Linked DNA regions of Homo sapiens: all the other regions are linked to region 2. Evidence: fine-mapped expression QTL. A gene starts in region 2. Each other region holds a variant in brackets. All regions are shown on one strand. Distances are between the middles of the regions.

Region 1 (5,105 bases), 92 kb before region 2:
TGTTTTATGGTACATAATGTGCTTAGAACTTTAAATTCTGAAGAAAACCATCATATCCTTGAATAAAAACAAGTACTGCGATTTTAAATTTGCAGATAATTTCATAGAATTATAGATTTAACTAATAAGATTTTTGACTTCTGCGTACCTTCACTGTTAATCCAACAGAATATTCTCTGAATTATAAAAATACCACGAAAAGAAACCCAGCTAGTTATCAGAGTTGTCAAGAGAATGATTGGTCACAGCCAGCACCAGGGAAAGAGAGTCTCCCAATAGACAGAAAACACCTGGAGCTGGTGACAGCGGCTTCCTGATAAGATCTCCGGAGCTGGGTGAGCAGGCTCAAGCATGCGCACTAAGAGGCAAAATGGTGGATGTATGACCTTCTTCAGGGAGCATTTGACTGGTAAAGGAAAATAGCCCCTAGAGAGCAGGTGCACAACCTTAGTAAAGGCACTACACATGTGGCCCCTCCTAAGTGCTGACAGGCCACTATGCATGCAGATAGCCTGCCCCCAAGAGAAGAATCAAGGGAGGAGAAATGCAAACCCCAAAACCAAGCCAGTGCATAAAAATCCCAAGCCAAGGGCTGAACAGGGTACTGGGATCTCTCAAGCCGCCCACTTGGCCTTCTTCCAAGTGTACTTTGCTTCCTTTCGTTCCTGCTCTAACACTTTTTAATAAACTCACTCCTGCCCTAAAACTTCCCTTGGTCTCTCCCTCTGCCTTAAACCTACTTCTGCCCCTCAGCCGAATCCTTTCCTCTGAAGAGGCAAGGATAGAGCTTGCTGCAGACCCCTACAGATTTACTGTTAGTTAAATCTGAACTGCCTTTCCCCTGGATCAAGAGGAAAAAAAAAAACCAAAAAATTATATTTTGGATTATTCATATCTGTCTTCCCCTTTATATGGGCAAATATGAAGAGTTAACTAATCACTGTTAATGAACAGAAACTTAGCATCAAATGCAATGAAACTATAATTCAAATCTCTTATTATAACCACTATCATCAAAAACACTCTAGAGGGCACCAGAAACAGCAATATCTGTTTTTATTAAACTCAAGAAAGCAGGACCAACTTGTCTTTGATAATGAAAACCTCACTCTATGTATATATACTTAATGTACAATGCCGCTTTCTCCTCTCTTTATAAAGGCACAAAAATTTTCTTTAAATGTTTTTTAAAATTAAAAAAAAAAACAGTTATTACCTGTGAGTCTGCCATATACATCTGACCTTGTTTAAGAAGCATATCTTCTTTTCCTAAATAAATGCAAATGAATGACATTTTAACTTCAATATCCATACTAAAGTAGGCTAAACATTAATTTGATGTTATTTCCTTTATTATTCAAATAAAAGAGAAGCAAGAGGTACAACACAAAAGTATCCTCATTCTAAAATACCCATTTTCCCCTTATTATTTCTATAAACAGAAGTACCTACAATCTACTGAACAACAGATACTAGGTTGGTTTTTTTTTTTCTTATTTTTTTCTATGCTCTCTCTCAGCAGAATCACTAAAACTTCAGAAATATTGAGGACTCTTAAACTAGGCTACATGATAATAAAACATATATCTTATAATCAATCAAAACAAAAATGATGATTTAAATTTATAGCATAAATATTACTGTTGTAGGAGAGAATAGTTTAATAGTCACTAGGAAACAAAAACAGATTTTCTAGAGAAACTGTTTAACATTGCAGAATAAAAAAGATTATGTAGGGTCTAAAAATAATTCATAAATGTAATTTTAAAATGCCTACTTGCATTAAGACCGATTTCTCCAAATTAGAAAACTATGTTTATGTTCTTTCCATAAAAAAATGAACCCTAAATATCACAAGACAAATGTCTATGTCTACTAATCAACAAGGCAAATTTGGTAATTCATACAATATACAATTTTAAAATACAGGTAGCTAAGGAGAATCAGAGCTTCAGTAATTATCAGAATATGTTAGAAGTTACAATAGTCATCTTAACGTCTTCCTAGTTCCATGTGCTGATGAAGTTTAGCAGCAGGAATATCTTGTACAGTTATTCCTGTATAGTTAAACAAGTAAGAATAAACATTCTTCTTTACTTGAACTAGGTGAACTGTAATGATAATCCATACTTTTATACTTACGGTTACTGAAATGACTTCCTGATCCTAAATGATCACTCTGAAATCAGAAGCATAAAATATTTTAGGGTGAATGCTGCCTCATTTTGTTAAATTCTGTATCTATTTTAGCTCTAAATCATGCAGTCATTAAAACTACATTTTTGACATTCTTGTTTCTCCAGAGCATTATTCTACTCAAACCCACAAAAAGAAACAACACTAGCAACACTTAGAGAGATCAGCTGGGAATAAAGTACTTCACTAAGCATTTTAATAAAAGCAGCCAAGTGTTTTAAGAAAAAACTTTATTGCTCAAAAGAAAAAAAAAAGTGAGCCCTAAATGAACTGAAACAACTTTCAAAGACTACTGTTTGCTACTGCTTTACCTCAAAAGGAAGGAAGTGGCCACATTCATGTCAATAACTCATTTTACTTTACCACTGTAGGAAGCAGAAACCCTACCTCATTGACTATGAAATATCAACATAACCACTTCTTCCAGAGTTTATAAAATACCAA[G/A]TACTTTGAAAGTAAAAAGAGAGAGAGAGCAGGAAATGAAACTGAGGCAGAGACCTACACATAGTAATAAATCCATCAATCCATTAGTTAGGAAATAATAGAGAACTCTAGCTACAGTGAATCAAAATATACTGGGTTGTTCCTTTTCCCAAGTAAGCCAAATACAAAGAATCTAATATATAAATTAAAATACTACACTTCAAGGGTAAGAATAGGCCAGGCACAGTGGCTCACACCTGTAATCCCAGCACTTTGGAAGGCTGAGACAGGCAGATCACTTGAGCCCAGGAGTTCAAGACCAGCCTAGGCAACGTGGTGAGACCTCGTCCTTACAAAAAAATACAAGAACGAGCTGGGTGCGGTGGCTCATGCCTGTAATCCCAGCACTTCGGGAGGCTGAGGCAGGTGGATTGCCTGAGGTCAGGAGTTCAAGACCAGCTTGGCCAACATAGTGAAACCCCGTCTCTACTAAAAATACAAAAAATTAGCTGGGTGTGGTGGCGGGCACCTGTAATCCCAGCTAGTAGGGAGGCTGAGCCAGGAGAACTGCTTGAACCTGGGAGGCGGAGGTTGCAGTGAGCCGAGATCGTGCCATTGCACTCCAGCCTGGGCAACAAGAGTGAAACTTCGTCTCAAAAATAAATAAATAAATAACAACAAACACACACAAAAACATTAGCTGGGCAGGGTAACCCAAGGTACTCAGGAGGCTGAGGTGGGAGGATCACCTGAGCCCGGGGAGGTCAAGGCTACAGTGAGTGGTGATTGCACCACTGCACTCCAGCCTGGGTGACAGAGTGAGATCCTGTCTCAAAAACAAAACAAAACAAAACAAAAAACCCCAGAGTGAAATGAAGAGTAAGGACAGGCAGATGTAGTTCATATTTGTATATTTAGGTGTATCAGTCCTAAAAGCTACATACCAAACTCTGAAGTAGTTGACCATGATAAAACAGTCCACAATTCCATGACTAAATTAATGCCACCTCCATTAATCATTAGTGCCCCCACAGTATGAAAAAATACCTATAAGCTTAGTTAAGCTCTTTGTTCTATGGAATATTTAATACTAAAGTTTACAATAACTACTAAATGGCCTCATACATGTATTAGGGGGTGCTATGCACATAAGGAGTTCAAAAAACTTAATTTGGTCTTATTATCTCTATTACTCAAATGAAAACAAATATAAAAGTTGTAACATAAAATCAGTCTCATTCTAAAATATCCATTTTCCCCATATTTTTATACATACAAGGGAAATAGCTACATGTTAAGTTATTATACATAACTCGTAACAGTAATTCCTTTGACAGTTAAGCTTTTTTAAGCATGTGAGATAATACAGCAGTAGATATTCAATGTTTGTAAATGATGAATTCTTAGTAGTTTGTTGGTTGGTTGGTTGGTTGGTTTTGAGACAGGGTCTCACTCTGTTACTCAAGCTGGAGTGCAGAGGCATGATCTCGGCTCATTGCAGCCTCCACCTCCTGGGTTCAAGTGATTCACCTTCCTCAGCCACCCAAGTAGCTGGGATTATAGGCATGCACCACCTCGCCCAGCTAATTTTTATGTTTTTGGTAGAGACGGGATTTCACCATGTTGCCCAGGCTGGTCTCGAACAACTGAGCTCAAGCGATCCAATTGCCTCGGCCTTCCAAAGTGTTGGGATTACAGGCTGAGACACCACACCCAGGCAAATTCTTAGTAGTTTTTAATGGTTGCTGTTATAAATACTGGGTCACATATAAAGTGGGACCTGTAATTTTCTGTTTGAAAGTAAAAAATCATATCTAGCATAAAATTTCATCACAATGAATACGTAGTGACTGAGGAAAATGTCCCCATCATACTGAATGGGAACAGTTACAAAACAGGATGTACTATATGATCCCACCTGTTGAATGAGTATATAACACACAAATTATGTACAAATGTCTGAAAGGATTTCAGTCAGGTGCTAGCAGAGTTAAGATTATAGGTGTCTTTTGCATCTGCTTTCAGTTTAAATATACTTTCTTATTTTTCTAAAGTAAATAAGTATTTTTATAAGAAAAATAAGTTACTTTTATGACTATTGTAAGTTATAGACTTGACATTTTAGACAAATTGTTTGTCTAAAGCTACAGAAAAACATCTTTTTTTTTCTTCCCCTTGAAACAGAGTCTCACTGTCACCCAGGCTGGAGTGCAGTGGCGTGATCTCACTCATTGCAACCTCCACCTCCCAGATTCAAGCAATTCTCCTGCTTCAGCCTCCTGAGTAGCTGGTATTACAGGCATGTGCCACCACGCCCTGCTAATTTTTGTATTTTTCGTAAAGACGGAGTTTTGCCATGTTGGCCAGGCTGGTTTCAAACTCCTGACCTTAAGTGATCCACCCACCTTGGCCTCCCAAAAGTGCGGGGATTACAGGCGTGAGACACTGCGCCTGGCCTATACCTTACACTTAAGACATGCGAAAGT
Region 2 (5,105 bases):
TATTTTTAAATTGTACAGAACTTATTCTAATATTTAAACAGAAATGTTTGCTTTTTCTACATAAATAGGTTAATATCATGTTTATCTTTATTATGTCATTTTGAGAAAAATAGAACGCTCAATTGAGTGCTAAAGATTTAAGCTCAGAGATATGCACTTTATGTTCCAAATGTATAAAATGCAAACTATCATGCTGATAATACCTACTAAATACTCTGCATTTCTAGAAAACTGGATAAAATTAAGGCATATAAACCTCCAAGTGGGATTTACATCCTTAGTGCAAATCAAACACAACCAGGGAAAACAAAGCTAATAAATCTAGAAACTTGTATCTTCTATAAGGCTAAAAACACAACTTGCATTACAGAAGTAGAATCTTAACTGTAATGAACTCCAATATCACTAAATGACATTTCTGCCAGTTACTTTTTTTAAAAAAAAAAGTGAAACAAAGTAATCTCTGTTTTCCATGAGCTTATAAAACGACTTCATGCTTTATCAAAGAACATCAATTACGTCATCTGAATCTACTCTCTTTTTTTGAAATAGGAATTTAAGTCTAGGTAGTTCCTCCACAATTTCCTTTATGTCCAAGTAAAATAATCCTCGATATAGGTGGAGAGAAAGGCATAACTGAATTAACTCAAAAAAGCAGAAGCAGATTAATTAGTATTCTGATAAAAAGAATATAATCATTTGGTAAAATCTGCGTTGAATTGTAAAGGTTCATTTTAATTACCCCAACTAGGTAACTGTGCAGTTGGAGCATAACAACTCCTTTACGTTCGACTCTTCCAAGACTTTGTAAGTGGCACTTATTTTAATGATATAGAATTTTGATGATATCGCCATTCTTGTAACGTGACAAATTATCTAAATCACAACATCTGCGGTCAGGCTGTTTCTCAAGATTTCTGTTCTCCTGCCAACTAAAGAGGCCCCGACTACTCCTTGGCGCGCACACTGAGGCCGCGCTGCAGGTCAGCACCGAAAGAGCCCCGCACGGATCCCGCCCCACAGGTGCGATTTACACAACCCACATCACCACCACCCCTCCCAACTTCACCACCTCTAGGGTCACCACCCTGTGGGGTTTTGTCTTTACGACTAAGCCGATTCCCTCTGCCTCGCTGGGGAATCAAACTTCCCAGTGACAACGACAGCGGCCAGCACGGGACGTCCACCAGCCCGGCAGGGCTTGACGCTGTCTCAGACCCGGGGAAGGTCCGGAGTCCGGGCACGGTGGCGCGGGGTGCGCAGCCCTGCCCACCTGCCCTACCTGGTGCGAGCCCCGGCCCCGGGGACTGGGGAGCCAACACGGCCGAGCGGGCGTGGGCAGCAGGGCGAGCGCCGGGAGAGGAGAGCGACGAGGGGGGGTCAACGGAAAGAGCGGAGTAGGGGTGCCAATCGAGGAACTTTGGATTTAGGAGGAGGGGGCCAGAACCGCCCCACTGAGGTTTCTTCCAGAAGTTCGGAGGCTTGGGAGAAAGGGGTGGGGAAGAGACCCGTAGAGGCTCGGGTGCGGCGGCGGGGAGGATCCCCGGGGTCTCTGGGCTGACGGAGTCTCCGGCCTCAGGGAGGAGTCGCCAGGGCCGCCGAAGCCGAACTGGCAGAGGAAAAGCAGAGGAAGGCGGCGCGCGAACTCGCCAGCAAAGGAGGGCTGCGCTGCTCCCGGAGCGGAGCGCCTCGCAGCCCGGACCGCGGGACTCACCGCGCTGGCGGCGGCGGCGCCAGACGACGCGGGGCCGGGCACGTCCTGCCTCCTCAGGCGGGACTTGAGGCTCTTCATGGCTAACTCTTGCCTGGCCCCCGCGCGAACCTTAAAGGCTGCGGAGTGCCAGCGCGCAAGGAGTAGACGGCAGCGGCTGCAGCAGAGGCGGCGCGGGCTGTACCAGCCCCACCTGCCTGCCACCTGCGGGCCCCGGGCAGCAGACGTCGACAGGCCTGAGGCGGGGCTCCCCTCCCGTAGCCAATTGACCCGCTGCCCTGGCGGGGGCGTGGCAAACCGCGACCAATCGGAATGCGGGAATGGGGCGGGACTTCCCTTTTAAACTGAGTAACACCCTTCCTCTCCCAGCTGGAGGAAAAGTTTGGGAACTTTAGCCCGGGAAGGGGCGGAGGAGGTGGGCGGCCAGAGGCGTGGAGATGCGCGCAGGCCGGGCTCCAGGCCACCGGCGCCCGCCCACCCGGAGCTTAAGATCTAGAGAGAGCACGGGGTCCCGCCTTTGCCACCTCTCATCTTCCCGGACTCCCCTCCTCTTTCCACCCACGCGCTCTTTACCAAGTAAAGTTCCTTCCCTTCCGTCTGGTCTTAGAAATGACTCTTGGTTACCTGCACACAGAACAGCTTTCAGGAGCAACTTCTTTTCAGTCTCCTGTTTTACTACCAAATCCTGGTGCCTGGAAACCACCACACGCATCAAAAATTCCAGAAATAAACAGTCTCTAAGAAATAAGGTGCTGATTGTGCAGAAAAACGTACAGTTAAGAAAGACCTTGAAAGACGTTATAGTAAGTTACAGTACAAGTTACGTGCTCGTTTATTTGTTGAGTGAAGAATCCGCCGTATTGGAAGCAAAGGGACGGAATGGGGGCGGGGAGGGAGGAGAAGAGGTGCCATCAATTAAAAATGACTCCCACAGCCAGTGATTTAAGTTGTCAAAAAAAGTTACGCCCTTTTTTCTTCAAAAAGGTTTTTTGTTTTCTGTAGAAACACATTACATGTAAACGTATACGATGAAGTTAAATCATCTTACCTAGAAATCTGGGTTAGTAAAAATTATTTAAGAGGATGAAGAAACAGGAAGGTGCTCAGCACCCAATAATTTGCTGTTCGGGTGACATCTTCAAAAGTCTTCTTTGGAGTCATTTTTCCCCCCAGCAAAACGTTTATCGTAGCATGCATCCATTTGAAAAGACAAACGGTCCACATTTTCTGACTAACAAAGGACTCTTTTTTGTCTGAAAGGTCAGTTGCTCTCTTTAGAGTTTCTTTATAGTAACGCAAGGTTTTCTTCAAATACTGTAAGAAAGTTTTCAGAATTTCTTGGAGAGGCAGCATTCAAAGACTGTGTTAACCCTATACAACAAGTAAATAACAACTAACTACCCAAAAATATTATTAAATTTCATCTTGATTAGATCTTTGGAAGAAAATTTTCTTTGATTCCTCCCCCTTCCTCTAGATCTCCAGTCATTTAGTTCTTGTTGGCTCTTTAAAGTGTCTGTGTATGGTCAGTTACTCTGTTCTCACTGCCACTGCAGAGCCAAAATTACCTCATACCCGGACTATTATTACAGAAGCTTCCCAGCCAGTCTCCCAACCTTCAGTCTCTTAATTGTCCCATCACCAATAAATTATCAGCCATCATCAATAAGTCTTACAAAAATACTCCTCTTGCTCAAAAGCCTTCAGCAGCTAACGAATAAAATCTAATTCTTTGCATTTAAAGCTGTATAACGTGGACGCGACCCTGTTCTCTAGCCAACACCCCAAGCGAATTACTCTTCAGCCCATTCTCCAAACATGGGTCATGGCTTTCAACTTCCACATCTTTATGCATACTGATCCCTCCCCCAATAATCTTCTGTCTGTCTACATTCATCTCAGAAAATCCTACTCCCCCAAGAGTGATTGGTAGGGGATGTCGGGGGCTTCTGGAATACTGTACTATTCTCTGTGGGTGCTGGTTACATATCTAGTGTTTTCAGATTGTGAAAATTCAATGAGCCTGTACTGTATGCAATATATTCTCTTTTATGTGTGTGTTATGCTTTAACAAAAAGTTTGTTTTTAAGTGTATGTCCCTTCCAAGTGCCCTCCTCTCTATAGAACCTTCCCTGATCAAGTAACTGGAAGTGATCTCTCCATCCTCCAAATAGTTACAGCAATTATACCTCTCATATGATACTAACACATATGAGCTGAGCAAACCTTATTTCATTACTGGACTTCAATTTACTTAAAATTGGGGAATAACTGACATATATTTGAATTCCCTAGAATGCTTAGCATGTTATAGGTGTTTAATAAATATTTCTGAATGAATTGATGCATTCTTATTGACTACTATAGCAAATTATGGTTGTTTGTTCTATGTATTTATGTGACACAGGATTGGGATTCCCCCTATTGTGAACACAGATGGAATGATCTGAGGCTATGGTCCTGCTCAAATATTTGTGTCTCAATCAACTCCTTTCTCTGGGCTTAAGATAAGCACCCATTTACCATCTAGTCCTCTGACTGAATCTTAAATGTTAATTGCTTACAAGAGCACTGTCTCAGTAATTGGCTCTTGAGTTATTAATTGCAGTGTTATGTTGTACTGGTTGTCTCCTGTAACATCCAAGTTATCATAGTCCTGGTGACTGGCCTCCTTTTCTGTTGTTACTGGATAAAGCAAAGGAAACAGACAGAACCACAAGTATAGCTTGCATCAGGTTCCAAAAATGTTGGGCAAGTTATTTTTATGAACTGTCTGGATGATGTCCCCATGGTGTCTGTGTCCAGTGGCCTTTATGGATTTTTCCAGCCTAGAAACTTGATAGCTGATGTCTGCTTATTCCCATTTGAGAGCAGCTAAGTAAATAGCACTGGTCTGAATATTCAGTAAAGCTTTTTTACATTGATCTGGAAGCTGCCTATATGAAGTAAAGTCACTATTATTAGCATTCAACCAGACAGGTTGGGTTTTATTTTGTTAACTCTTATCACTATTATTTATTTTTATCTTCCCTTCAGAGCAAAGGGCACTTATCAAACCTAGATGACCTTTTGTTTGTTATCACACTGAGCCTATATAAAATATTTTTTTGTTTTACTTCTTTTTTTTTTCCAATATTTATTTATTTACAATATATACCAGGAAGGGTAATGCATTTTTTAAAATTACTTTACTAGATTATATATACACATGGTAATCTCAAATAATACAAATGGAGCAAGTTGATCTGCTTACCACCCCTATTTTGATCCCTGCTGTCAAGGAACTTGTGTTCTGGATTAGATAACAAATGTGTAAGCTGTATGCTAACACATACAGTTTAACTGGACAATCGCTTACTGAATCGTGTAGTAAGATTGCAGATGGTATTTAGGG
Region 3 (5,105 bases), 81 kb after region 2:
CCTGTGACAATCATTTATCTTCCCTTCCAACCCACCCCCCAACTACTTTCCCTATTCACTCTTCTATGTACTTAAGCTCAAGACCTAGGATGTGTCCTTTCACTCTCTCTTTTGCCCCCACATTTAGTCAATTATAAAGTGCTTATTTCATTTTGCAGGGTCTCCCATCTGTTCTCTCTTTGCCATTCCAACCATCCTCATTATTTCTCCCTTGGATACTTATTAATAGCTCATCAAAACATTTTTCCAAAAAATTAAAGTAATAGATAAACATAGCAAAAACTAGAATAAAATAGTAGGGAACTTATAAAGAAATCAACAATTCCCCATTCCACCTTTCCTCCCTAGAGGTAACTTCTCTTCAGCCATTTAATTCTTAGGAGAGTTATCTCATAGCTCTATAAAATATGCTTATAGCTCTATTTCTCACTTGCCAACCGTAGTCATTCTCTATTCATGTCTTACTACATAAAATGAGTATTTGGGGTCACTTATGACTTATGTCCCTAAATAACCCCTTCTTCAAATTTTCTTTTAGTTTTGGTTCTTCTATTAGCCTTTTATTTATGGTTTTGGTGTCTTTTTTTTTTTTTTTTTTTTTTTTGAGACGGAGTCTCACTCTGTCGCCCAGGCTGGAGTGCAGTGGCATGATCTTGGCTCACTGCAACCTCTGCCTCCTGGGTTTAAATGATTCTTCTGTCTCAGCCTCCTGAGTAGCTGGGATTACAGGCGCACGCTGCCACGCCCGGCTAATTTTTTGTATTTTAGTAGAGACAGGGTTTCACCGTGTTGCCCAGGCTGGCCTCAAACTCCTGAGCTCAGGCAATCTGCCCACCTCGGCCTCCCAAAGTGCTAGGATTACAGGCGTGAGCAACCGCGCCCGACCTTTTTTTCTTTTTTTTTTTTTAAGACAGTCTCACTCTGTCGCCCAGGCTGGAGTGCAGTGGTGCGATCTCGGCTCACTGCGACCTCTGCCTCCCAGGTTCAAGCAATTCTCCCACCTCAACCTCTCAAGTAGCTGGGACTACAGGCACACACCACCCCACCCAGCTAATTTTTGTATTTTTAGTAGAGACAGAGTTTCACCATGTTGGCCAGGCTGGTCTCAAACTCCTGACCTCATGTGATCTGCCTGCCTCAGCCTCCCAATGTGCTGGGATTACAGGTGTGAGCCACCATGCCCGGCCCTATTTGTGTTTTAAAATAATATACTTTAAGTGGTTTCTTATTCCATAAACATTAAAAAGTATTTTTCAATTCCTTGCTACGTGATATATTAATACACACTATTGTCCTACTCTCTCTTCCATCTCACCTATTTCCAACCTTCCATATTGCATCAGATGTACTTTTATTTCATTTTGCCATGGTTCATAATATTTCATTCCATTCGGTAACTAATATTCTATATTTTATCTATAGATACATACTGAAAGTTGAAAGTCAATCAGTTGTATTTTATTATTATGACTATGTAAACACTGTTCCCTACAGGGCTAAGTCATTTGCTAAGATTACATTTCTTGTCTCAAAGTCCTATTAGTTGACTGACCACCTGGATTGGTCCTCTATGTTTATTTTTTCTTTCATATGCTCTGTCTTTGTCTTTGTAATTTACACACTAAGAGATTTCTTTGACATTATATTCTAACCTTTCCTACAGAATTTTTAAATTTTAGTAGTTATTTATTTAGTTTCTAAGAACTGTTTTTGATCCTAGATAATTCCCTTCTAAGAGCTTCCTACTCTTGTTTTGTGGATGCAGTATCTTAAGTTCACTCTCAGGGTGCTAGTTGGAGTATACATTTTTGAGTCTTTTGTTTCAACATCATCACCTCTGTATCCTTTGGGGTCAGTTCTTCCATTTAACTTTCATGCCACTGATTTTCTTCAAGTGACTAAGAAATAATTCATTTTTTCTTTATTAAAGGGTTTAATAAACTTATTTTAGAATAGTTTTAGATTTACAGAAAAGTTGTGAAAATTGTACAGAGAGTTCCCATATATATACACCCAGGCTTGCTCTGTTATAAATATCTTGCATTAGTATGGTACATGTGTTACAACCAATGAACTAATTACAATTAGTTCATTAGTTCATTATATATTATTATTACCTAAAGTCCATATTTTATTCAGATTTCCTTA[G/C]TTTTGCCTATTGTCCCTTTTTCCGTTCCAGGATCCCATCCAGGACACCACAATACATTAACACATTAAGCTGTCATGTCTCCTGAGGCTCCTCTTGGCTGTGACAGTTTTCCTTGTTTTTGATGACCTTGACAGTGTTAAGAAGTACTGGTTAGGTATTTTGTGGAATGTCCCTCAACTGGGATTTTTCTGATGTTCTCTGTCATGATTAGACTGGGATTATGGGTTTTTGGCGGGAGGACCACAGAGGTAAATTTCCATTCTCAGCACATCCTATCAGGGTAGATGCTATCAACATGAATGATCACTGTGGATGCTAACCTTGATCACCTATCTGAGGTAGTGTTTGTCGGGTTTCTCCCCTGTAAAACCACTCCCTTTATCCCCACTCCCATACTGTGCTCTTTGGAAGAAGGCCACTGTACACAGCCCACACTTAGGGTGTGGGGAGTTATACTCCACAGCTATTCACTGTGAAGACAAAAGGTACATGCTGCTTTTTCTTAGTGGGTTGTATGGGTTCCCTCTGCAGTTGCACACTCCCACTGGTTTTCTTCCTAGATGGCTCTATGTACACAGGTGGGGCATGCCAAGTGGCAGGCTTCACATGAGGGTGAGCAGGCAGGGAATGATTAAGCTGGGGGCTCTACCCAAATGGCAAAGGCTTTACTCTGCGGCTGCCAGCTCTGCTTTCGCATCCCTAGATCTCCGTAGTGAGCTCATTCAATTCCTTTAGAAAATAATCTTGTCTCTTTTTTTTCCCCCTTAAAAATAAAATACCTGCTACTTTCCACTGGCAGACAGAAAGGCTAGGAAATTGTTCTAAAGGAAGAATTTAAATTACCTTTCAGATATTTGTAGCCCTTTTTACTCCTGCATCTTTGGTATATTTCCCAACCAGAGTCTTTCTAGGGTTCTGTCTTCCCACCTCCTGCCACCTCCCATGTTATATTTTAGGCTACAGCCTCCTCCACTCTGTGCCATATTACATGTTTTGAAGAACAGCTAGAGTATGTCACTGCTTTACTTGATGTCACTGATTTACTTTAATAATAATAATAAAAGCTTTTCTATTTCCTGTTAAATAAAATTCAAACTCTTCGGCTCCCAACCAGGCACGGTGGCTCACGCCTGTAATCCCAGCACTTTGGGAGGCCAAGGCCGGAGGGTCATTTGAGGCCAGGAGTTCGAGACTAGCTTGGGCAACGTAGCAAGACCCTGTCTCTACAAAAAATTTAAAAATTAGCCAGGTATGGCCGTGCACACCTGTAGTCTAGGCTATTTGGGAGGCTGAGGTGGGAGGATTGCTTGAGCCCAGGAGGTCGAGGCTACAGTAAGCCATGACTGCGCCACTGCACTCTAGCCTGAGTGACAGAGTGAGACCCTGTCTCAAAAAATAAATAAATACATACATACATACATACATACATACATAATAAAAAAAAAACCAACAAAGTCTTCAGCTCCTTATTCAGACTCATTTAGAATCTGGCTGTAACCAGCATCAAAACTTATTTCCATCGGTTTCCTTTCAGATCCTTTGCTCCAAACAAACAGAAAGACATAGTTATCTGTAAGTGTCACAAGCTTTCTGGACTCTGTGCCTTTGAGCTTGCTGTTCCTGTCTCTGAATGCCTTGCTCCTCTCTCTCGGGTCTAAATTCTAGTCACACATTAAGGTCCATCTTAAATGCAATTCTCCTAGGAAGAAAAAATCATTTCTACTTCTCCCAACACTTATCTATATTTGTATTATAGCTACTTGTGTGCACATTTTATTAGCAGCCCGAACACTGAGTTGAGAGTAGAACTCAAGCTGGTTTCTTTCATTATAGTATTACCCCAGAGCCTTGCATGTAATGGGAATTTAAAAAGTATCACCAATGTAAAGCAAATAGTTTTGAGGGCAAATCATACCTATCAGGATCCTTTGAGGGAGGAAGTATGGTTTCTGATGAATATGCTCTTAGTGGCCTTTCAAGGAGGCTTGAAAAAGTTTTACACTTAAGGTTTTGCTTTGTTTTGTTTTTTAACAAAACATTGTAAACTGGGAGTGATGAGGTCTTTTGTTATAGCTATAAACCTGTGAGAAATGGGTAGAAATAAAGGGGTACATTTTAAAACAGGTAATTGGGTTCCATGAATCAGTGCTGAATTTTTTTTTTTTTTTAAATATGTTGTCTCACTCTATCGCCTAGGCTGGAGTGCAGTGGCACTATCTTGGCTCACTGCAACCTCTGCCTCCTGGGTTCAAGCGATTCTCCCGCCTCAGCCTCCTGAGTAGCTGGGACTACAGGTGCGCACCACCATGCCTGGCTAATTTTTGTATTTTTTAGTAGAGACAGTGTTTCATCGTATTGGCCAGGCTAGTCTCAAACTCCTAACTTTGTGATCTGCCCACCTTGGCCTCCCAAAGTGCTGGGATTACAGGTGTGTCATATTTGTAAATGATTTAGAGAAACAAAAGGATTTGTAGCATAAAACATCCAAGGCTACTTTTTTCATAAAATATCGAATCTGGTTACACTGATTGCGCAGTTAATCGAATGATACCCTATAGGAGGAGAATATCCAAACTAAGATGGTGGAATAATGAGACCCTCACTACAGCTTTCAATCCAGGAATGATTTTTCAGACTCATTGTCTATCATTGCAGATGGTGGAATATGGTATTTTGACCACCAAGACCAAGAAAATGGTGGACACCAATAAGGAAGGTACCAAACACAAAAACATCATTTATGAAAAACACTAGGGTCCAGGTCCTGTCTGTGTGAGATTTCTTTTGACTCACCTCTAGAACAAGATAATGAATGTGAAATGGTTCAAAAAGGGCAAATTGATAATGCAATATAAAAACACCAGGGCAGATTCAAAAGATAAGGATTTTTCACTGAGACAGATTGAAAACATATACAGGTATGTTCTCAACTTTGTTAAAGGCATCACCCTTTTAC
Region 4 (5,105 bases), 430 kb after region 2:
GGCCCCACATGAACCGGTTTACTCCCAGGTCTCCGGGTCTCTTCATTCTTTTCCTCCTCTATATTTTTGCCCAAATCCTTGGTGATATCTGATACCCCAAGGGCAGCACCACCTCCTATGCTTTGCCTTCTTCTTCTTCTTCTTTTTTTTTTTTTTTTGAGATGGAATCTCACTCTGTCACCTGGGCTGGAGTGTAGTGGCACGATCTCAGCTCACTGCAACCTCCGCCTCCCAGGTTGAAGCGATTCTCCTGTCTCAGCCTCCTGAGTACCTGGGATTACAGGTGCCCACCACTATGCCCAGCTAATTTTTTGTATTTTTAGTAGAGACGGGGTTTCACCATGTTGGACAGGCTAGTCTTGAACTCCTTACCTTGTGATTTGCCCACCTCAGCCTCCCAAAATACTGGGATTACAGGTGTGAGCCACCGCACCTGGCCTTCTTGACCTTTCCAAACTGTCCAAATTCCAAAAGCCTTTTTTTGATGTGTACTGTCTTGTGTTTTAAATTCCTTTGGTGGATTTATTTATTTATTTATTTATTGAGATGAAGCTCTGTCACCCAGGCTGGTGTGCAGTGGAGCCATCTCAGCTCACTGCAGCCTCCACCTCCCAGGTTCAAGTGATTCTCTTGCCTCAAGTACCCGAGTGGCTGGGATTACAGATGTGCGCCAACACGCCTGGATAATTTTTGTATTTTTAGTAGAGGCAGGGTTTCACCATGTTGGCCAGGCCAGTCTTGAACTCCTGGCCTCAAGTCTGCTTGCCTTGGCCTCCCAACGTGTTGGGATTACAGGTGTGAACCACCGCGCTTGGCTCCTTTGGTGAATTTTGAAGTGAACCTGTTCTCGACAGTTTTTTTCCAGGTATTTCAGCATTATTCTCCTAGACGGGTTATAAACTCTTTAGGATAGGAACTAGACTTATTTCAGTGTCCTGCAGTTCCTAGCATGCTTCCTTGCTAGAGCTGACCTTCCTAGAGTTGACTTATTTTGACTTCATACTCTTGTCCATGACAACTGTCTGTGTGCAGGACAATATGAATAAGGATGTGAGATGCTGCCCTACCCTCGGGGAGCTGTTCTGCTAAGGTGCCCGGATTCCCTAACAGCCCTCTGCACAGCTGTAATCTCTTGTTAGATTAGTTTTCCATCCTTCATGGGAATCGTTTTTCTTCCTACGTTTCTGTTTTTAAAGTTTGCATAAAATGGAGACTTGGCTGCACACCAGGGAGGTTTAGGAGAGAAATGAGCAGTGGGACCTCCCCAGCCAAACCTGGCTGCAAACCGCTGACTGCACAGGAATACGAATGACTTCTAGTGGGATGGGCGGGGATCCTGGGGGGATGCTCTTCATTCCTGCTTTTGATCAGGAGCTGGGCCAGCTTTGGAAATCTGAGTGTTGGCACAACTCTCAAATGGTCCTGCTGCTGTTATTGTCTGGGGTTTCTTACTGGGCGTCCACACTCAGAAAGGACCCCCTCTTTCCTGTAAGCTTGCTTCTCACTGACTGGCACAGCTTGGTGATTGGGGTGGTGGTAGAGACGTGGGCCATACGGAACTAGGAGCATAATTTTCACAAGCACTTAAACTTGAACAGAACAAGATTAGCAATATTAACACGCATTACACTGAGATATGACGCACAGGGAAATACCTCTAGGTACCCTTGGGATAACTGTAATGATACATGACTTAGGATTTCCAGATCCTCCTAGCTGCTTGGACTGTGGTTCCAGGCCCAGGTCACAGAACCTTGGTTACCTAAAGGAAGAATGGCCAGGGTTGGTGATATGGTTTGGCCCCCATCCATATCTCATCTTGAATTATAGCTCCCATAATTCCCACGTGCTGTGGGAGGGACCCGGTAGAGATCATTGAATCATGGGGGTGGTTCCCCCATACTGTTCTCACGGTAGTGAATAAGTCTCATGAGATCTGATGGTTTTTCTTTTCTTTTTTTTTGAGACGGAGTCTCGCTCTGTTGCCCAGGCAGGAGTGCAGTGGCGTGATCTCGGCTCTCTGCAAGCTCCGCCTCCCGGGTTCACACCATTCTCCTGCCTCAGCCTCCCTAGTCCCCCCTGGGACTACAGGCGCCCGCCGCCACGCCCAGCTAATTTTTTTGTATTTTTAGTAGAGACGGGGTTTCACCGTGTTAGCCAGGATGATCTCGATCTCCTGACCCCATGATCTGCCCGCCTCCGCCTCCCAAAGTGCTGGGATTACAGGCGTGAGCCACCGCGCCCGGCCTGAGATCTGATGGTTTTATAAGGGGCTTCCCCTTTCACTTGGCTCTCACTCTCTCTTGCCTGCTGCCATGTAAGATGTGCCTTTATCCTTCTGCCATGATTGTGAGGCCTTCCCAGCCACGTGGTACTGTGAGTCTGTTAAACCTCTTTTTCTTCATAAATTCCCAGTCTCGGGTATGTCTTTATCAGCAGCTTTAAAAAGGACTAATGCAGTTGGTGAGAATATGGAAGTACAGTCTAGCTATGTTCTGTTTCTTCTGTCCAATAGATGACAGAAACAGATGCCTCCATCTGTTTTCACAAACCGAGGTTGCTCTTCTTGCCACTGAGTAGAAGTTGCCTCCTCCAGCTTTGCCCCAGCCACCTGCTACTGAGAAGCCCAGCCCACTCAAGTCCTTGGTACTAAGGGCACTGCGGAGGGGTCTGGAGATAGTTTGCCATTTCCACACTCAGGGTCGGGGCATGGATTTGGCCCCTCTGG[G/T]CACCTGTGGGAGTGTAAGGGTATAATTTCTCTAGTGACCCCATCTCATGTGGCCTGTTGCCCTCCTGGGCCCGGTTCCTACGTGTCACTCATTCTCTTACCGAAGACAAGGCTTGACCTTGCATGCAGGTCCCATTTGGAGAGGCCCCTACAAATTCATTTAGATCCTACCAGTCCCATCTCCAAAGCAGCCCCTGGTTCATGATATCCCTTAAGTGCCTCAAAAACTATGCATAACTCTGGCTTCTGGACACCAGCTGTTCCTGGTCTTCAGTGCACATTCACTTCGGTGGCTCCCACCTGCACTGTTGGATTGTAAGACACAGCCCATGGCTCTTCTGCAGAGGAATGAAAACTACACATAGTTATACCTTGTGGGATGTTACATCTGGAATTCCAGTTGGAGAAGCTGCCCTGGGAAAGTCGGCGGCCACCAGAGAAGCAGGAACAGGAATGAAGCACAGCCTGGTGTTCCGAAGCCCAGCACGGGGCTGGGACCATGTCTGTCATAGTCCACCATGTGGAATGGGCCCTCCACACTCTCACTAGGGGCTGTTTTTCCAAATCAGTGAATATGTATCCACTACTTTTATGGGCAAGGCCTCGTGTTAATTCATTGTAGAGGGTAGAAAAGCAATAATGTTTGGGAAGGTACGTAACTGTACTCAGTCTACGGGAGACATTAAGAAATATTAAAATCTATAGAGATGTATATGCATCCCTATATGGGTTGTTTTCCATCCCAAAATATTAAAAGAGGATGAAGTCAAAATAAGTCAATCCTAGGAAGGGCAACTCTAGCATATATAAAAAGGCAATGGAGAAATGTTGAGTTTAGCAAAAGACAACCTCTCTGCTGGGATGCAGAGTGGTTTGGGATGGCAGAAATGGGAAAAGTCCAGTAGATGGAGCCAGGGAGGAAGGACATTTATCTTGTCACTAGAAGGGTGTAGTGGGAAGGTGAGAATGAATGAGGTTTTCTGACAATACCAAGTGGACCCCTCTAGGGGGCACAGAAGGAATTTGTGTTTGTAGATTGGAGGTAGGGGGTGGCCAGGGGAGGGCCAATAACAAGTCCAGTTAAAAAGGCAGGTTGAGTCCATACTAGAGAGACCTTAGATACCAGGTTAGGCGAGATAGACTTTATCCTTCTGGTACTGAGGATCCACTGAAGCCCTTCGAGCTAAGGGGGAGACACTGATAAAAGTGGTATTGTCGGAGGGTTGCTCTGGAGGTGTGTGTTGGGTGGATGGGGTTGGGGGAAAGACTGGTGGCAGGGAGACCACCTGGGAGTCATAATAATACTGGTGATAGCTACCAATTATTGAGCATTCCCTACATGCAGGACACTGTACAATGTGATATCTGTCATATTCAATAACCTGCAAGCTGAGTACACTTGACCAATGAGGAAACTAAGGCTTATTCATGTTGAATAACCACTGCATCCACCCATTTGTGTTGCTATAACAAAATGCCTGAGACTGGGTAGTTTATAAAGGACAGAAACTTATTTCTTACAGTTCTGGGGGCTGAAAAGTCCAAGTTCCAGGTGCTAGCATCAGGTGAGGGCCTTCTTGCTGCATCCTCACATAGTGGAAAGCAGAAGGGCAAAAGGGCCGACTGCTGAGTCCTCACAGGGCAGAAGAGCAAGCCAGCTGAAGGTGGCAGAAGCCTCTTTTATAAGGCCTTTAATCCCATTCATGAGGGAGGGATCTTCAAGACCTAATTACCTCCTAGAGGCCCCACTTCTTAATATTATCACATTGGCAGCACCTGAATTTTGAAGGAGACACATTGAAACCATAGCAGCCACCCAGAGTCCCAGAGCTTATAAATCACAGAACCAGCGTTTGAACTCAGGACTGCTTGCTTTCAAAGCCAGGCTATAGTAGGTAAAGTTTTCCACTAAGAACTGTACGATCCAAATTAGGGGAATTATAATCAAATTGAAAAAGAGAGATTATTGCAAGAATCCAGAAGACTCGATAACTGACCAGGTTGGAGGAGTGAAGGAGACAGAGAGAGAAAAAGAATGACTCCACTTTGTAGCTGTGGCTTTAGGGACAGTGGCAGTATTGCCACCAGACACCAAGTATCATAGGAGGAGGTGCTCTTGAGTGGGTCAGATGAGAAGATAGTGAGATGAGTTTCAGAAATGTGGCAATCAAGATGGTGGCAGAAATGCCAGGCAGCTATTGTCAGTCATATTCTCTGGCTTACATTCTAGACAAGCTGTGAGCATGGGCAAGCAGGAACACGGGAAAGAGAAAGCTTCTGGTGTTAGGGGGAGATTCTGGAGGAAGTAAAATGAGGAATAGCAGCAGAAGCAGCTGTCAGAGAGGCAGGGAGAGGAGGAAGATGGCATCATGGTATG
Region 5 (5,105 bases), 320 kb after region 2:
GATGAATAGGGCATGGTCCCTGCCCACCAGGCTCACAGCCTGGGTTGAAGAGGTAGATGACTAAACAGGCGCATGCAATTCAACATAGTACGTGCCTCTTTGGAGTAAGCACGGATGTGGTGGGAGCACAGTAGAGGGGCAGCGAAGCCCACCTCGGGGAGGAGGTACAGTGGGGTTTTGAAAGGAGGGCCTCCCTTAAGGCTGCTGAAAGATGTGGTGTTATTTTTTATTTTTTACTTTTTTGTAAGAGACAGGATCTCATTGTATTGCCCAGGCTGGAGTGCAGTGACTATTCACAGGCATGATCACGGCTCACTGCAGCCTCAAACTCCTGGCCTCAAGTGATCCTCTTGCCTCAGCCCCACAAGTGGCTGGGACTCTGGCAAGTGTAGTGCTATTTAGTGGGTAAAGAGGGGGATAGGAAAGAGTCAAAGGGTATTCTAAGTTCAGGGGCAGCTTTCACAATGACTCAGAGACAAGGAAGAACATGTAGGGCTTGGAAGTCTGTAAGTGGTTCAGACAGCTCAGCTGATGAACTAACCCCACACACATCATGGTGGGCGTCACTGAAGCATTTACTGGGCAGCTCCTGTGAAGAAATCAGCTTGCTTGAGCTAAACATGTGAAATGAGTTCATTTGGCTTGACCATATTTAACTCCATGTGGCTGGGTTAAATGAAATGTTTCATCCTTTGGAAGGAATGCAAAGTTTTTGGGGTTTTGTTTGTTTTTGAGAAGGGTTTTGCTCTGTCGTCAGGCTAGAGTACAGTGGAGTAATCATAGCTAAGTGCAGCCTCCAACTTCTGGCTCAAGCCATACTCCTGCCTCAGCCTCCTGAGTAGCTGGGACTACAGGTATGTGCCACCATAACCACCTAATTTTTTTAAATTATTTTTTGTAGAGACGAAGTCTTGCTTTGTTGCCCATGCTGGTCTCAAATTCCTGGGCTCAAGTGATCCTTCTACTTAGGGATCCCAAAGAGCTGGGATCACAGGCGTGAGCCACCGCACCTGACCACACAAAGAGTTTTGAACCAGGAAGGAACCTGGAGAAATTATGCAGCAGTGGACAAGGTGGGTGGCCTACTGAAAAGACTGAAGAGACCCTCAAGAGAATCTGGTAGCCATCAGAGTCAGAGACATTTAGAATGGCACAAACACAGCAGGAAGGGAAGCAGTGATTCTATCAGGCACCAGGAGAAATATGATACACAGGTTACCCCATGTCATTCTCACAATAACCTAATGGAAGTTGGCATTATTAAACCCACTTTACAGATGAGGCACCAGAGGTTTGGAGTTTGTTGAAGCCACTTGCTCTGAAGCATTTTGAAAACTTTGTCCTGGTTCTTGTGACTTGAGCAGAGACTGAGCTGCCTCATCACACCACCGGGTTCCTCAGGAGGAAGATCCGTGGCAGAGGAGATGGCATCTGGTTAGAGGCTAGTGGCACAGGAGGAGCATGGGCCAGAACAGCTCCCATGAGCTGGAAGATGTGACAAGTACTAGTATCAATATCAAGAGCAGGGAGGTTGGGAGTGGTTGTGGATTTTAGCAGATACATCCACTCCTTCATTCATTCTATTTATTTAATAAAAGGTTCTGCTGGAGACTCATCAGCAAAAACAAACAAGCAAACAAAAAAGAGACAAGTATTTGTACCCTCATGGAACTTACATTCTAGTGAAGGAGGGGAGCAGGAAATAAGCAAGACAGTCAATTTCCTCTATAATAGGTTAGATGGGGAAAAGTAGCAAGGTGAGAAATAAAGGAAGGAAGGGAATTTTTTTTTTAATTTCAAGATGGTTGCAGTTTTAGATGGAGCGACCAAGAAAGTGGCATTCAAGTAAAGACCTGAAGCAAGTGAGGGAGTGAGCTGTGAAGACATCTGGTTGGGAGAGTATTTTTGGAGGAGAGAATCACATGTCCCAGGGCCTGGAGATGAGAGAACTAGCATGGAGCCCATGTGGCTGTAGCGGAGCTTAACAGGGCTCTCTAGGAAGAGAAGAGGCCAGAGTTAACACAGAGTTAACACAGGGCTAGACCACTTGAGGCCTTGAAGGCCATCGTAAGGACTTGGGGTTCCCTTCTAGGTAAGACTGGAAGTCTTTTGAAGGCTTTGAGCAGAGATTGCCCTCTGACTTTCATGTTAACAATATGGGTCTGATGACTGTGTTGAGAATCCATGGTCCAAGGGGGCAAGGGCAGAGCAGGAAGGTGAAGCAGGAAGCCCGTGGAATAAGCCAGGTGAGAGATGACGAGGGTTTGGACCAGGC[G/A]GGAACAGGGGAGGGGGTGAGAAATGGTCAGGTCCCGATGTATTTGGAGGGTGGAGCAGCAGGATCTGCTGACAGATTGGATGTGTGGTGTGAGAGAGAGAAGTCAAGGATGACTTCAAGGTTTTGGCCTGAGGAACTGGAAATGCCTTTCACTGAGGGGGAAATAAAGAAATAAGCAGGTGTGGGAGGAAAATGAGGACCTCAGGTTTTATTCTGTTAAGCTTGAGGCAGAAATGTAGGAGGAGCATGAAGAAAGGACAGTTCCACAGAGGCCAACGGCAGGAGGAATGGATCAGATGCCACGGAAGGGTCAGGGAGACGTGCGTGGAGGGAAGGTCATTGGACTTGGCAGGCAAAATGGTCATGAGCTCACAGAAGAGGCACATGGTGTGCTTTGTGAATTTCTCCCTAGTCCTACACTCTCCTTCATTAAGCACAGGATTCTTTCGGCCAGTTTCTTCTTTCTATTCCCCTCCCCAGCTCTTTTTAGACCAGGGCTGGCCTGTACCCATCCACTCCTCTAATGCTGGCTTCAAAGCCTGTTTAATTTAATGGTCACTCCAGGGATCTCTTGGAAACCGATGGGAGGGTACCCTGTCCCTCGTATGGTATTTTTATGTTCATTTTTATTGGGCATTTATTTTTCCTGCTAAAAATATCTCATGCCTTTCTGGGGGCAGGGGAGGGGGGAAGTGGAGCGGAAAAATTATTTCAGCATCTCGCTTACAAATCTGCTTGGTGGAGCTGGAGTCTGTGGGTTGAGCACTGGTTTTCCATGCCCATTTCTGGATGTGCTCACTAAGATATTCCAGCCCAGGCCCTTCCTGTTTTAGTGAAAGGAAAGCAGTGAGGTCCCACCCACTCGTCTTAGAAGCTCCCTCCGGATGGCCTGGCCAGTTTCCATTCCAGTAGATGGCACGAAACTGAGTTCATGAAGTACAGAAAGTCTGAACATCTGTTTCTATGGGTCTACATGATGTCATTTGTCCTGAAACACCCCCAGCCCCTCACACACAGACAGTCCAGATCCTACACTTGGAAAAAAAAAACAAACAGAAGGGGAATTCCTACTGAGGTAATGATCTGAGTGTGGAGGGGCTCCCAATTTGGCCTTTATGAATGGACTGATTGAGCTAGGTAGACAGAAAGGGGTAATCTCCCCCTCGCCGCTTCTCTAACGCCGTCCTTTGAAAAAAGAAAATAAACTGGGCAAAGTCATCACTGTGTGAAATGGGGCTGAGGATTAGGATTTCCACAGGTCCAAGAGCAATCAAGTCATTACCATTGAGTAGATTCGAGGTTGACTTCAGGGTGGTTCAATTTGTATATCACAGAATATTTGAACAACTGTCTAAAGAAAAGGTCACTGTGCCCCAGCCTGAGCTGGGTTGACAATTTGCTTCTGAAGGGCAAAAGTAAGACAATAATGTCTCAACTGTAGAAGGAGGTGGGGGAGCAAGGACAGAAGATGGAGCAGAGTAGAGATGCCTTTAAATAACTCAGAGGGAAGGGCTCTTTTCTGAGCTTCACTGTGCTCAGCCTCCAGGGGAGTCCTCTGAAGCACTTCTTCAGAGCTGTGACCTCCTCTGGGTCTGGGAACCAGGGGTGAGGCCATGCTGATCAATTCTGGCTTGGGGAAAGGTGAGAAAGAGACAGTTTGTGAATAACATTTAGCACCCCAAATCAGGTGGATGGCTTGAAAGCTCGAACTAAGGATACAAGGAAGTGGTAGAAAGGAGGGGTGGGATTGAGGTGGGTTTTGCCAACTTGGAACACTAGAATATTTATTTATTTATTTATTTATTTATTTATTTATTTATTTATTTATTTATTTTTAGACACAGGGTCTTGCTCTGTCACCCAGGCTGGAGTTTAGTGGTGCAATCATAGCTCACTGCAGCCTCGAACTCCAAGGCTTAAGTGATCCTCCAGCCTCAGCCTCCTGAGTAACTAGGAATACAGGCATGCACCACCACACTTGGCTAATTGGAGCACTAGAATCTTGTTGGCAGTAGCACATGGGCTCCTCTTGGTGGAAAAAAAAATATATCCACATCAATATTTGGAGGAAGGCTTTGTCTTGGGACTTTAAGAAGATAGCAAAGGATTTGTTCATGCTTGAACCTATGCTTGTGAGTGAGAACTTTATAGTGTTACTATATGGATAACATGAGTTTAATTGTATACACCTGTGCAGGAAACAGTCACCATGGCTGCCTGAGACTGCTCTCCTTAGAAAGGTCTGCTTGGAAAGTTGGCCCCTGGTGGGCATCTGGGAGCTTGGCCAGTGAATAATTCCCCACATTGATAGAAAACTTCTATCAGTGATAAGCGTGGCTCATTGGACTTACACCATTTGTACAAACAAAATGGTTTGTGCTGAATGCCTGCCTTCCTTCTGAGAGCCTGGAGTTTTGTTACATGCTAGGCAGCAGGTGCCTACATGACAAAACCCCAGTATAAAATCTTAAGCACTGAGTCTCTAATGAGCTGTCCTGACAGACAATACTTCACATGTGTAGTTAGAATTTGTTGCTAGAGGAACTAAGTGTGTCCTGTGTGAATTTACTAGGAGCAGACTCTTGAGAGCTTGCACCTGGCTTTCTCTGGACTTCTCCCCATGTGCCTGTTCCCTTTGCTCATGAAACAATTGCTTTGTATCCTTTTGCTGTAATCAATCTTAGCTGTGAGCATGGCTATATGTGGAATCCTGTGAGTCCTCCTAGCAAATCACTGAGCCTGGTGGTGGTCTTGGGGACCCTTGATACAACTAAATCACCCATATTCTAGGGCAGAGTTCTAAAATTAATGACCTGATTCCTGTTTACTA

Alleles and levels. Alleles are on the strand shown, and positions count from the first base shown. SD is a standard deviation of normalised expression in the study named. Not every link is listed here.
For the expression in putamen of the gene that starts at base 1,943 in region 2, allele G in region 4 goes with a lower level than allele T (large effect, 0.82 SD a copy in GTEx).
With allele G in place of A in region 5, the expression in sun-exposed skin of the gene that starts at base 1,943 in region 2 is higher (small effect, 0.37 SD a copy in GTEx).

The links. PIP is the estimated chance that this variant, and not a neighbour inherited with it, causes the effect.
Region 1: its variant is fine-mapped to the expression of UACA in whole blood (TOPMed, PIP 0.95).
Region 3: its variant is fine-mapped to the expression of UACA in blood mononuclear cells (TOPMed, PIP above 0.99). The same link has a PIP of 0.9 or more in whole blood.
Region 4: its variant is fine-mapped to the expression of UACA in putamen (GTEx, PIP above 0.99).
Region 5: its variant is fine-mapped to the expression of UACA in sun-exposed skin (GTEx, PIP 0.96).

The regions. Positions count from the first base shown.
Region 1 is chr15:70,669,823-70,674,927 of GRCh38, forward strand. It overlaps UACA (uveal autoantigen with coiled-coil domains and ankyrin repeats), which reads right to left. Exons shown (of 19, transcript NM_018003.4): 14 at 2,143-2,179; 15 at 1,217-1,269. Among named protein-coding and RNA genes, the nearest start is that of SALRNA2, 37 kb to the left of the region's middle. The variant G/A (reference allele first, on the strand shown) is at 2,641.
Region 2 is chr15:70,761,616-70,766,720 of GRCh38, forward strand. It overlaps UACA (uveal autoantigen with coiled-coil domains and ankyrin repeats), which reads right to left and starts at 1,943. Exons shown (of 19, transcript NM_018003.4): 1 at 1,715-1,943. The coding sequence starts at 1,792. RefSeq lists a silencer at 1,708-2,117.
Region 3 is chr15:70,843,070-70,848,174 of GRCh38, forward strand. All of the region lies in intron 1 of LARP6 (La ribonucleoprotein 6, translational regulator), which reads right to left. Among named protein-coding and RNA genes, the nearest start is that of LARP6, 8.5 kb to the right of the region's middle. The variant G/C (reference allele first, on the strand shown) is at 2,149.
Region 4 is chr15:71,191,763-71,196,867 of GRCh38, forward strand. All of the region lies in intron 3 of THSD4 (thrombospondin type 1 domain containing 4), which reads left to right. Among named protein-coding and RNA genes, the nearest start is that of THSD4-AS1, 5.3 kb to the left of the region's middle. RefSeq lists a silencer at 3,568-3,862. The variant G/T (reference allele first, on the strand shown) is at 2,729.
Region 5 is chr15:71,080,391-71,085,495 of GRCh38, forward strand. All of the region lies in intron 3 of LOC105370886 (a long non-coding RNA gene), which reads right to left. Among named protein-coding and RNA genes, the nearest start is that of THSD4, 33 kb to the right of the region's middle. The variant G/A (reference allele first, on the strand shown) is at 2,276.